Linked DNA regions of Homo sapiens. The protein of the gene in region 1 interacts with the protein of each later gene in a biochemical or structural test. Each region holds a gene or a part of one and is shown on either strand. Other genes may lie near its edges. The genes, in order: NEUROD1, MAP3K10 and MAFA.

Region 1 (3,746 bases):
CATTACAAAATGAATGCCTCTGAGAAAAAGTTAAATGCAGTGTTTTATAATGGCGCGTGCGTGTGCCCCGCTAGTACGTAGGAGTGAGGACAGGACTGGGGGAGGGTAGTGAATATGTATATGTGTACACCACTCACGCATATGTGTTTGTATCCTAGTGATTAACTTAAATGTGTTTATGGTGGTTGCCCGACAGGATAATGTGTGTGGAAATGACTGTACATTTCAGCGACTTCATGTTTATCCAAATGTGTTCAAAGTTACTCACAACTCCATAAAAAAAAAAAAAAGCTGTAAAATCACACATTCTACTTCCATTTCTGTCCTGGCTTCCAGATACTTAGCGATTTAAGTTGAACAGCCATTGCGTAATTTACTAATACTGGCAGCGATTTTTAAGAAGATTACATCGACGGGATACTGAAAAGCAAATGCAGAAAGGAGGAAAAATAGTTTCCACCAAATTGTTTCACCATCAATGTAACATTTGGCAACAAAAGTGGACAGGGTCTTCCACCCCTCCCTCGCCTTTCTTTTCTTGCCTTCCATCTCTGGCCCACCGCTAAATTTCCACCTTGTACAAAAGCGCTAGCTGCAGGGCGAGGGCTGGGGGCGCGGCGCAGAGCGCTCTCCCACGCGCCGGGGATCAGGTGCGGAAGGCTCCTCTCTAATAAACAGCCCATTGAAAGGGCCGCCCGCTCTTTATTGGGGCTTTTCAAAGTTCGCCTCAAACCTCCCTTTAAAAGATTGAGTAATTATAATGGTCAGCGATTGGCAACCGCGAAGTTGCCGCTTCTAGTAAGGAAAATAAAAAGCCTTTAGTAAAACAACTGAATTTCTGGCTCCAGTAGTGGCTGCTGGGGACTTGGCCGCCTCTGGAGCGGTAACAGGTAGCAGGAGTGAGTCCCTCTCCCTTTCTCCACTTTCCCCCCTCTCAACTAAACTATCTCTGAACCTGATTTATTTTCCATGGTGTGAATACTCAAGGTATCCATGTCCCTTTCATTCACTGAAAACACAGCTTGACACTCCCAATGTGCGTAAAATACATGCACACAAAATATATATTGATAACATAGATTTTTTTTTCTTACTGTAAGAAGTGAGAAAGTGAAGTCATTATTGCTTTTGGGACTTTAAAATCAGCACTAGCAGATAATCATAGTTACCGTGCATTCTTTTAAAAAATCCAAGAAGCTCCTATGCTATCCACAAAAGAAACCCAAATTTTTAAAATTTAAATTAGAAAGCCTGCAGGGGGTACTTGAGTGACACGACTCATTATGTGTGAGTACTTATGGGCAATTATGGAGGGGGATGCTGGTCTCAATACACATACACACTCTCGCAAACGCACACATACAGAATATGTAGGTTCATCAGTCTTCAGTTATTGCTTCTATTCTGGGGCAAAAAAATGAAAGAACTGTAATTACCTTTGTTGTTAGTAGGTCCTGAGCAGTGATAGTCTCATAACCCTGGGGCCTCCGGACGCCGCGCCTCCTGCGTGGGCGAATTCCTCGTGTCGTGGCCGCGCGGGCGCTCAGGTTATATAGCCCAGTTAGTGATGCTAAGCGCGGGCGGGGCCGCTAGCTGAGGGGCTAGCAGGTCTATGCGCCTGACGCCTGCGCACGCGTCCAGGCTGTGCGCTCCCCGTTCTCCCCTCCTCCCCACTTCTCCCCACGCCTTGCTCGTCTCCCGCCCTCCTCCGACAACCGCTCCCCTCACCCTCCACCCCTACCCCCGCCCCTCCTCCTTCCTCCCCGGCATGCGCCATATGGTCTTCCCGGTCCAGCCAAGAGCCTGGAACCACGTGACCTGCCCATTTGTATGCCGCGGAGCGCTCCATTCCGGCCCCTTTGTGGCCAGAAGAAAGTGGCCCATCTGTCGCCAGTTAGAGACTCCGCGGACCTGTTTTTACCCGCAGGAGAGATTAACCCTTTCAGGCGGCAGAAGGGACGGGGATAGAGGGGGGAGGGGATTTGAGGGAAGGAAGGGAAAAGCTAATGTTAACTAGGTCTAGATCAGAGCGAGTGGCCTGCTTTCGCGCCGGAAGTAGGACAGAGGTGAAAGAGGCAGAAGCGGGGAGACTGAGGCACGCAGTGAAGAGTCCTCGCTCCTTTCGATTTCTTGTCCTGACACTGGCATCCAGAGCAGCATGACTCCTTGCCCTCTCTGAAAGGCCCATCCCTTGGCTTCTTCTCCTTGGCAGACGCTTTGATCATTGGCGCCAAAGGATGGCTTCTCCTAATCTCCGTCGGCCCCTCTAAGCAAACATATACGCCATATAAAAGCGGCTTCATCTGTAAACGCAGCGTTGAGATTAGTTCCCCAACCTCCCTAACCGGATCGTCCTCTCCCAGTTCCTTCAGTACAGAAAAGTTGTACCTGCCATTCTATCCCTACCATACGTGCAATTCTTCATGTCCTGACCTTCAGCTACGACTGTTCCTCCAGACCCTCTCACTACGTCAGTCCCCACCTCCATCCCCAGGATCTTGTCCTCAAAGCGAGCTAGTTCTCGCGAGGAGGCCTTGGTTCCATTGGCCTTTGCGCTCTCTTATGTGGGAGCTGGGGACTTCTTTGACGGTTGTATTCTGCCTTTTAACCATGGCCACTGGGTTGCTGGAAAGGGCACCCTCACTCAGCCAGTCCAGGGACGCTTCTGGTTCCCTGGCCAGCCCGCCCTGGACGGCCTCGGCTCTCTAGTCCAGGCATTGACCACAAGTACGGTGGTGGACACCTCGCCACAGCCGGACCTGCGCTCTTGCTCCCCTCAGTCTCGGGTCTGTATAAGATACTTGATTCAGACAAGCGTTTTCAAAGAGAAGATGCAATGGGCCTGTGCTGAACGGGTCTTTCCGATCTCTTTCTAGAAACGCCTTTAGCACAACCCCGGAAGGATTAATGGCTGCGAACTCCTCCAGACTTCAAAGCCTCTGATTTGAAACTCCCAACTTGAAGGTCAAGCAAAGACCACAGAAATTCTCGACCAGTTCTGAAGGAGCCATATTGTTGCCCAAATAGCAATTCTTTACTCTTTTCGAACAAGGGTTTTCCAGAATAATAGATTTTAAAAAGAAAGAAAGAAACTGGCCTGTCTACTCGTTCTTTCCCAGCTTTGCCTCTAATCCTTCATTAACTAACTCCTTACCCCCTCCCAGACCTGAAACCCTCTGCAATAAATACCTCTTACGTGAATTGCTTATTTAAAGGCAATTGCACTAAACATCCCTCGAGTTTGCAAACAGCGACAGGGTTGAGAGGCTGGATTGGGGTGCATCTGGGAGAGGGTGGGGACGGGAGGAGAGAGTAGGGGTAGAGGAAGAGGGTCCTAGCCAGATCCCCGGTGTCTGAAGGTAGCAGGTGCAGCCTTCCCTGCACAGTACTAATCTAAAAGGGGAAGAAAAGAGTTGTGCCACCGAAGCGTGGCGTGAATCGTTGTGGGGTTCTGGAGTTTTGCTTGCTTTTCTACATTCACTTGGCTGACAAAGCGCATAGGGGAGGATAAAATAATTCACCCAGGAGCCTGGGCCCAGGATTTACCCCTGTACTGTCTGTATCTTCAGTGTTGGGCTAAAACTCGAGGGCGTCGGAGTACTAGCCCTTAGAAGATAGTACACAGCCCGACGTTTGCGGCAGGGCCAGGTTAAGTACTGCCCCTCACCCGGCAGCTGCCCCGACTGGCAGCACACTATGCCGCAGGCATATGCAACTCGTGCCTAGGCTCTCATTTTTCCAACTTT
Region 2 (3,746 bases), on another chromosome or scaffold:
CTCACTGCTTTCTCCACCTTTATTTCTTACAGCAGCCAGAGGGAAAAAGGTCAATTTGATTCCCTCAGTGCCTTGCTCGCATGGCTCTGGGGGCTGCCCCAGGGCAGTTAAAAGAAAATCCATACCAGGCCAGGTGCGGTGGCTCTTGCCTGGAATCCCAGCACTTTGGGAGGCCCAGGCAGAAGAATCACTTGAGGTCAGGAGTTGGAGACCAGCCTGGCCAACATGGTGAAAACCCCATCTCTACTAAAAATACAAAAATTAGCCAGGCATGGTGGTGCAGGCCTGTAGTCCCAGCTACTTGGGAGGCTGAGGCAGGAGAATCGCTTGAACCTGGGAGGCAGAGGTTGCAGTGAGTTGAGATCGCACCATTGCACTCCAGCCTGGGAGACAGAGCGAGCGTCTGTCTCACCATGGAATACTATGCAGCCATAAAAAGGAACGAGATCATGTCCTTTGCAGGGACATGGATGGAGCTGGAAGCCATTATCCTCAGCAAAATAATGCAGGAACAGAAAGCCAAACACTGCATGTTCTCACTTATAAGTGAGAGCTGAGCAAATAGATCACATGGACACAGGGAGGGGAACAACGGACACTGGGGCCTGTTGGGGGGTAGGGTGGGGGAGGGAGAATATTAGGAAAAATAGCTAATGCATGGGCTTACTACCTAGGTGATGGGTTGACAGGTGCAGCAAATCACCATGGCACACGTTTACCTATGTAACAAACCTGCACATCCTGCACACGTACCCCAGAACTAAAAACAAAAATTAAAAACAAAAAAATCCATACCAAAGGTGTCAAATGAAAATTAAAAAAAAAAAAAAAAAAGAAAGGAAAATCCAGACTCTTATCCTGCTCTCAGGGCCCTGCCTGATCTGACCCCTGAGAACTCCCTGATCACAAAACCTATGTCCTCCTCCCATTCACTCTGCTCCAGCCAAACAGGTTAACAAGCAGCCCATGCTGTTCTCACCTCCAGCTTTTGCCTTTGCTGCTCCCTCCGCCAGGGGCATGCTTCCCTGAGGTCTCAGCCTGTCTCACTCAGCAGGAAGGTCCCTGCTCAAACCTCACCTCCTCCCATAGGGCTTCCAGATGGAAAATCGCAACCCTTCTGTGATGGGTAATTTTATGCGTCAACTTGACTGGGCCAAAGGACGCCTAGGTAGCTGGTTAAACATGATTTCTGTGAGGGTGTTGCTGGATGATTAGCATTTCAATCAGTGGACTGAGTAAAGAGAGATCATCCTCGCCAATGTGGGTGGGCACCATCCAATCCACTGAGGGCCCAGACAGAACAAAAAGAGAGTTAGCTCTTTTTGTCTAGGAAGGCAGAGGAAGGGTGAGTTTGCTCTCTGCATGAGCGTGGATATCCATCTTCTCCTGCCCTGAGACACTGGACATTGGTGTTCAGGTTCTCAGGTCTTTGGACAATTTTTTTTTTTTTTGAGACTGAGTCTCACTCTGTCGCCCAGGCTGGAGTGCAGTGGCACGATCTCGGCTCACTGCAACCTCCGCCTCTCAGGTTCAAGTGATTCTCCTGCCTCAGTCTCCCGAGTAGCTGGGATTACAGGCATGCGCCACCACGCCTAGCTAATTTTTGCATTTTTAGTAGAGACTGGGTTTCACCATGTTGGCCAGGCTGGTCTTGAACTCTTGACCTCAGGTGATCCACCTGCCTCGGTCTCCCAAAGTGTTGGGATTACAGGCGTGAGCCGCCGTGCTGGGCCAGGTCTTTGGACTTGATTTGGAACTACATCACCGGCTTTCCCGCACCTCTGGCTTGCAGAAGGCAGATTGCAGGACTTCCCAGCCTCCATAATCGTATGTGCCAATCCCTCATAATACATCTATTTCTTTTGTTTTTGTTTTTGTTTTTTTTGAGACGGAGTCTCGCTCTTTCGCCCAGGCCGGAGTGCAGTGACGCTATCTCGGCTCACTGCATGCTCCGCCTCCCGGGCTCATGCCATTTTCCTGCCTCAGCCTCCCGAGTAGCTGGGACTACAGGTGCCTGTCACAGCACCTGGCTGACTTTTTGTATTTTTAGTAGAGACGGGGTTTCACCGTATTAGCCAGGATGGTCTCGATCTCCTGACCTCGTGATCCGCCTGCCTCGGCCTCCCAAAGTGCTGGAATTACAGGCGTGAGCCACCGCGCCTGGCCTTTGTTTTTGTTTTTAAGTAGAGATGGGGTCTCGCTTTGTTGCCCAGGCTGGTGTCGAACTCCTAGGCTCAAGCAATCCTCCCACTTCATCCTCCCAAAGTGCTGGGATTACAGGTATGAGTCATCGTGCCCAGCCAATACATCTCTTTCTATATATCTAAACATATGCTGTTGATTCTGTTTCTCTGAAGAACTCCGATTAATACATCTCCTCTTTTATTCCCTTCCCTGAGCTCCTTTAAAGAACTTATCACTACTAGAAATTATCCTGCGCCCGGGCGCGGTGGCTCATGCTGTAATCCCAGCACTTTGTGAGGCTGAGGTGGGTGGATCACTTGAGGTCAGGAGTTCGATACCAGCCTGGCCAACATGGTGAAACCCCCATCTCTATTAAAAATACAAAAAATTAGGCAGGCGTGGTCATGTGTGACTGTAACCACAGCTACTCGGGAGGCTGAGGCAGGAGAATCGCTGGAACCCAGGAGGCGGAGGTTGCAGTGAGCTAAGATTGCACCACTGCACTCCAGCCTGGGAGATAGAGCGAGACTCTGTCTGTCTCCAAAAAAAAAGAAAAAAAAAAAAAAGAAATTATCCTGCTTACTGACTTATTTGTTTACTATCTGTTTCCTGTGATAAGAATGAGGAAAAGGGCCTTGTCTGTCTTCTTTCTTGCTGTTACTCTGGCTTGGTGCCAGGTATAAACATCGTGCTAAAAAATGTTTGTTCACTGACTGACTGACTGGTCAGGGCCTTGGGAGATACTCACGGCGAATGGCCCTCAGCCGGGGGATGATGCTGGGGCTTGCAGGGGGGCTGGCCCCATCGGATCCTTTCCGCTTATCCAGAGTTGGAGAGGCCTGGACTGTGATCTTATGCTCAAAGCCTGCAGAAAGAAAGAGAAGCTTTCCTAAGCAAATGGTTCCAGGGATTACCAAAGGGAATTTTCTTCTGTAGAAGTAGAGAAGGAATTCTAGAATGGGAACACCGCCATTTTTCATTCCTTAATGCAGTGGTTCTCAGAGTGTGGGCCCCAGAACAGCAGCATCACCATCAGCTGAAAATTTCTTGGCAATGCAAATTCTTGGGCCCTCCCTGAATCAGCAAGTTGGGGTGAGGCTCAGCAATGGACTGTGGTTTAATAAGTACAAGCACAAGAGCTCTTGTGGATCAAGGACCTAGGCCTCAGTGTCCAATATGGCCGCCAGTAGCTACGTGTAGCAGCTGAGCACCTTGAAATGTGGCTTGTGCAATGGGGGAATTGGAGTTTAACCTTTATTTATCTAATTTTTAAACTGTATATATATATATATATAAAGGATGAGTTCTCACTGTGGTGACCAGGCTGGTCTTGAACTCTTGGCCTCGAGCAATCCTCCAGCATCCGCCTCCCAAAGTGCTGGGATTACAGGTGTGAGCCACCATGCCCAGCCAACTCTTTATTTTATTGTAATTACCGCAATTTGAGTTTAAATTTTAAAAACAGGTATGGGGGCTGGGCGCGGTGGCTCATGTCTGTAATCCCAGCACTTTGGGAGGCCGAGGCAGGCGGATCACGAGGTCAGGAGATTGAGACCATCCTG
Region 3 (3,746 bases), on another chromosome or scaffold:
CTTGGTGGTGACAGCACCAAGCCTCAAGGAGGGCTTGGCAGGCTTGGGGCGGATGGGTTGGGGTCAATCTTTGAGGCCACCCCAGCCTCCACCACCTTCTCCCACCTCTCAGAGCAAGATGAGGCACTTAGGCTTCCTGTGGGTGGTGGCGGGATGGGGGTGCCACTGAGTCCAAGCATGGCTGTGGGGTCAGCGTCCCTCAGCCTGAGGTCACAGCTGTGGCCCCGGGGAAGGTTCCCACTGCAACAGCCTGGGGTCAGGCGTCTCCTTCATTCCCACGGGTGTGCTGGAGTCCTCCTGGGCTGGTGACCAAACACCCTCTCCTGGTCTCCTTGGCCTGGCAGGAGCCACAGTGCGATGGGCGGGAGGGGGGGACAGTGGGGACACAGCCCGGTGCAAACACTCTCTCTTTCCTCCTCAACCCCCTTTCCAGTGTGCCCCAGGGCCTCCAGGGTGTGGTACCCAGAAATGCTGCTAGACCCTTGGAGGGGCCGTGGGAGGGCCCTGTAGCCCCAAGGCCTCTCCTGGGGCTGCAGGTGCAGACAACCTGGACTACCACCAGCTCCACTGCGCGGCGGCATCCTCCCTTCCCGGGCCTCCCTCTCAACACGGGGTGCCATAAAGGAAACCCCACACCCCTGGCTGGCTGACCACTCGTGTGGTCTCAAGTCCAGGTACCCAGTGTGGGGACTTGGCTCTGCTGCATGCCCACTTCATTTCTTCATCTGTAGAAGGGTGGGGAGCTCAGAGCCCCCTCTGGGACAGGATCGGGGGAGAGGGGTCCCTGCAGGTGGGTCCTCATGCTGTCCTTGGCCCTCCCTTGCGGGGAGGAAGGCCTGGTCTTCCCAAATCAGCAGTCCCAGCTCTGCCCAGAGGAGTGGGAGGGCCCAGGGAAGGGCCAGGGACACCCCGAGACACCTTAGGAAGCAGATGTTCAGTCCTCACTTCATGACAGTCTTCTTGTTACAAAACAATAGATCTTTGTAGAGGGAAGGAGGTGAGAGCCTGGTACTAAATCTGCGGCGCCGTGACCAGGCCTCCCTGTGGCCTCTGCGCAACTCCTTCCAGGCTTTTTTTCTCTACACAGGTGGTTACATTTTAGACTTTTTTTTTTTTTTTTTAAATTGCTGAAGTCATAGAACAGCAATGGAGAGAATTTCGAGAAGAAACAATAGGCCCACTTCGGGTCACCGGCCTTGTAACTCCTGGCGCAACCCTCCCATCACCCGGCTCGCTGGTGTCGGGGACCTGGGGTCACAGGCCCACCGCCCATCGTCACCTCCTTTGCCCCGTGAACCGGAGCCGTCTCCTCCCAGCAGGTGCACGGCCGCCAGGTGGAAATCCCCGCCTTCCCGTCTCAGTTACCCCCCGTCCCACTCCAGGCCCAGCAAGGCGCCTCCAGCCCTGCGGGGGGCGAAAGTGGGCAGTGGTGGCCGCTTGGGCGGGGATTCCTAACGCCCTGAGGGGCTGCCAGCCCGTGGGCCCCGCCCCCGCCGCTCGCACCCACCCGCGTTGTCCCGCGACCCCCACAGTCCTGCGCTCTCCGCGGCCCCCCACAAGCCGGCCCTCCGTCCCCGGCCCCTCGCGCCGCCCCGCACGCGTGTGTCCCCCTCCGCCCGCCCCGTGCTTCCCGGTGCCCGGAGGTGCCGGCAACTTTGTTGACCAAATTCCTGAACGCGTCTGAGCCGCGGGCTAAAAATAACCGGCTCAGCGCGCCGCGCTCTGCCGGGCCGCGCGGTGTCACCCGTGTCCAGAGGCCCGGAGGTCCCGCTGCCGCCGCCGCCGCCGCTAGCGGAGCTGCCCCCGGCCCCCAGGCCCGGCCGCAAACCCAGGGGGCCGAGGGGGCGTCCCGCCGCGTGGCCCGAGGCGGACGAGGCCCCGAGGGGGTCCCCGGGCGCGGTCCCCGTCTGCTTCCCCGGACTCTCCGGCCGCCGGGTGTGGGAGCTGAGGCCCCTGGAGACGGCAGTTGTCCCCTGAGGCGGCGCGCCCTCTGCCCGTGCAGTGCCCCGTGATGGCCACCAGAGGGCCCTGCCCTCTCCTCTAGCCGGCGGCCCGTCCCTACCTCTTCCCACAGCTGTTTCCCGCAGGAGATTGACAGCTGGGCTCTGAGTTGCCATGGGGATAAGCAAATGAGGGCGGCGGGGCTGGGGCTCCGATTGGCCCGGGGGCGCGCGCCCCTCCCGGGGAGGCGGGCCCAGGCACCCGGCTCTATAAAGGGGCGCGCGCGGCTTCGCGTTTAGCCGTGGGAGGCGGGGCCGGCCGGCGGCGCGGGTGGGGCGCGGGAGCGGTCCCGGAGCAGCCCGAGGCGGCGGCCGCGGGGAGGAGGCGGCGACGCGGGCCCGGGGTCGCCCGAGACACCTGGCCAGCGGTGCCCCTAGCGCGCCGCCCCGGAGTTGACCACGTGAAACTTTTCCCTGCGCCCCTCGGCGCCGCCGCCCCGCGCCGGCGCCCCCCCGCCCCCGCCGGGACCGCCGCCCGCGGGGAGCAGGGGGGGGAGAGGCCTGCAGCTCCCCCCCCACTCCCACGCCGCCCGTCGGGGCGCGGCCGGGCGCGGGCCCCGGGCGATGGCCGCGGAGCTGGCGATGGGCGCCGAGCTGCCCAGCAGCCCGCTGGCCATCGAGTACGTCAACGACTTCGACCTGATGAAGTTCGAGGTGAAGAAGGAGCCTCCCGAGGCCGAGCGCTTCTGCCACCGCCTGCCGCCAGGCTCGCTGTCCTCGACGCCGCTCAGCACGCCCTGCTCCTCCGTGCCCTCCTCGCCCAGCTTCTGCGCGCCCAGCCCGGGCACCGGCGGCGGCGGCGGCGCGGGGGGCGGCGGCGGCTCGTCTCAGGCCGGGGGCGCCCCCGGGCCGCCGAGCGGGGGCCCCGGCGCCGTCGGGGGCACCTCGGGGAAGCCGGCGCTGGAGGATCTGTACTGGATGAGCGGCTACCAGCATCACCTCAACCCCGAGGCGCTCAACCTGACGCCCGAGGACGCGGTGGAGGCGCTCATCGGCAGCGGCCACCACGGCGCGCACCACGGCGCGCACCACCCGGCGGCCGCCGCAGCCTACGAGGCTTTCCGCGGCCCGGGCTTCGCGGGCGGCGGCGGAGCGGACGACATGGGCGCCGGCCACCACCACGGCGCGCACCACGCCGCCCACCATCACCACGCCGCCCACCACCACCACCACCACCACCACCACCATGGCGGCGCGGGACACGGCGGTGGCGCGGGCCACCACGTGCGCCTGGAGGAGCGCTTCTCCGACGACCAGCTGGTGTCCATGTCGGTGCGCGAGCTGAACCGGCAGCTCCGCGGCTTCAGCAAGGAGGAGGTCATCCGGCTCAAGCAGAAGCGGCGCACGCTCAAGAACCGCGGCTACGCGCAGTCCTGCCGCTTCAAGCGGGTGCAGCAGCGGCACATTCTGGAGAGCGAGAAGTGCCAACTCCAGAGCCAGGTGGAGCAGCTGAAGCTGGAGGTGGGGCGCCTGGCCAAAGAGCGGGACCTGTACAAGGAGAAATACGAGAAGCTGGCGGGCCGGGGCGGCCCCGGGAGCGCGGGCGGGGCCGGTTTCCCGCGGGAGCCTTCGCCGCCGCAGGCCGGTCCCGGCGGGGCCAAGGGCACGGCCGACTTCTTCCTGTAGGCGCCGGACCCCGAGCCCGCGCCGCCGTCGCCGGGGACAAGTTCGCGCAGGCCTCTCGGGGCCTCGGCTCGGACTCCGCGGTACAGGACGTGGACACCAGGCCCGGCCCGGCCGTGCTGG

Evidence for each region.
Region 2: of the proteins of NEUROD1 (region 1) and MAP3K10, one has a biochemical effect on the other in vitro, tested with the Homo sapiens proteins (one study listed by BioGRID).
Region 3: the proteins of NEUROD1 (region 1) and MAFA form a complex in vitro, tested with the Homo sapiens proteins (one study listed by BioGRID).

Annotation. Positions count from the first base shown.
Region 1 is NC_000002.12:181,678,994-181,682,739, forward strand, and holds the start of NEUROD1 (neurogenic differentiation factor 1), read right to left. Parts: upstream 1,525-3,746; 5' UTR 1,437-1,524; intron 1-1,436. UniProt on the Homo sapiens protein: Acts as a transcriptional activator: mediates transcriptional activation by binding to E box-containing promoter consensus core sequences 5'-CANNTG-3'.
Region 2 is NC_000019.10:40,208,406-40,212,151, reverse strand, and holds part of MAP3K10 (mitogen-activated protein kinase kinase kinase 10), read right to left. Parts: intron 3,050-3,746; coding exon 2,933-3,049; intron 1-2,932. UniProt on the Homo sapiens protein: Activates the JUN N-terminal pathway.
Region 3 is NC_000008.11:143,429,225-143,432,970, reverse strand, and holds the start of MAFA (transcription factor MafA), read left to right. Parts: upstream 1-2,238; 5' UTR 2,239-2,564; coding exon 2,565-3,626; 3' UTR 3,627-3,746. UniProt on the Homo sapiens protein: Transcription factor that activates insulin gene expression. Acts synergistically with NEUROD1/BETA2 and PDX1. Binds the insulin enhancer C1/RIPE3b element. Binds to consensus TRE-type MARE 5'-TGCTGACTCAGCA-3' DNA sequence.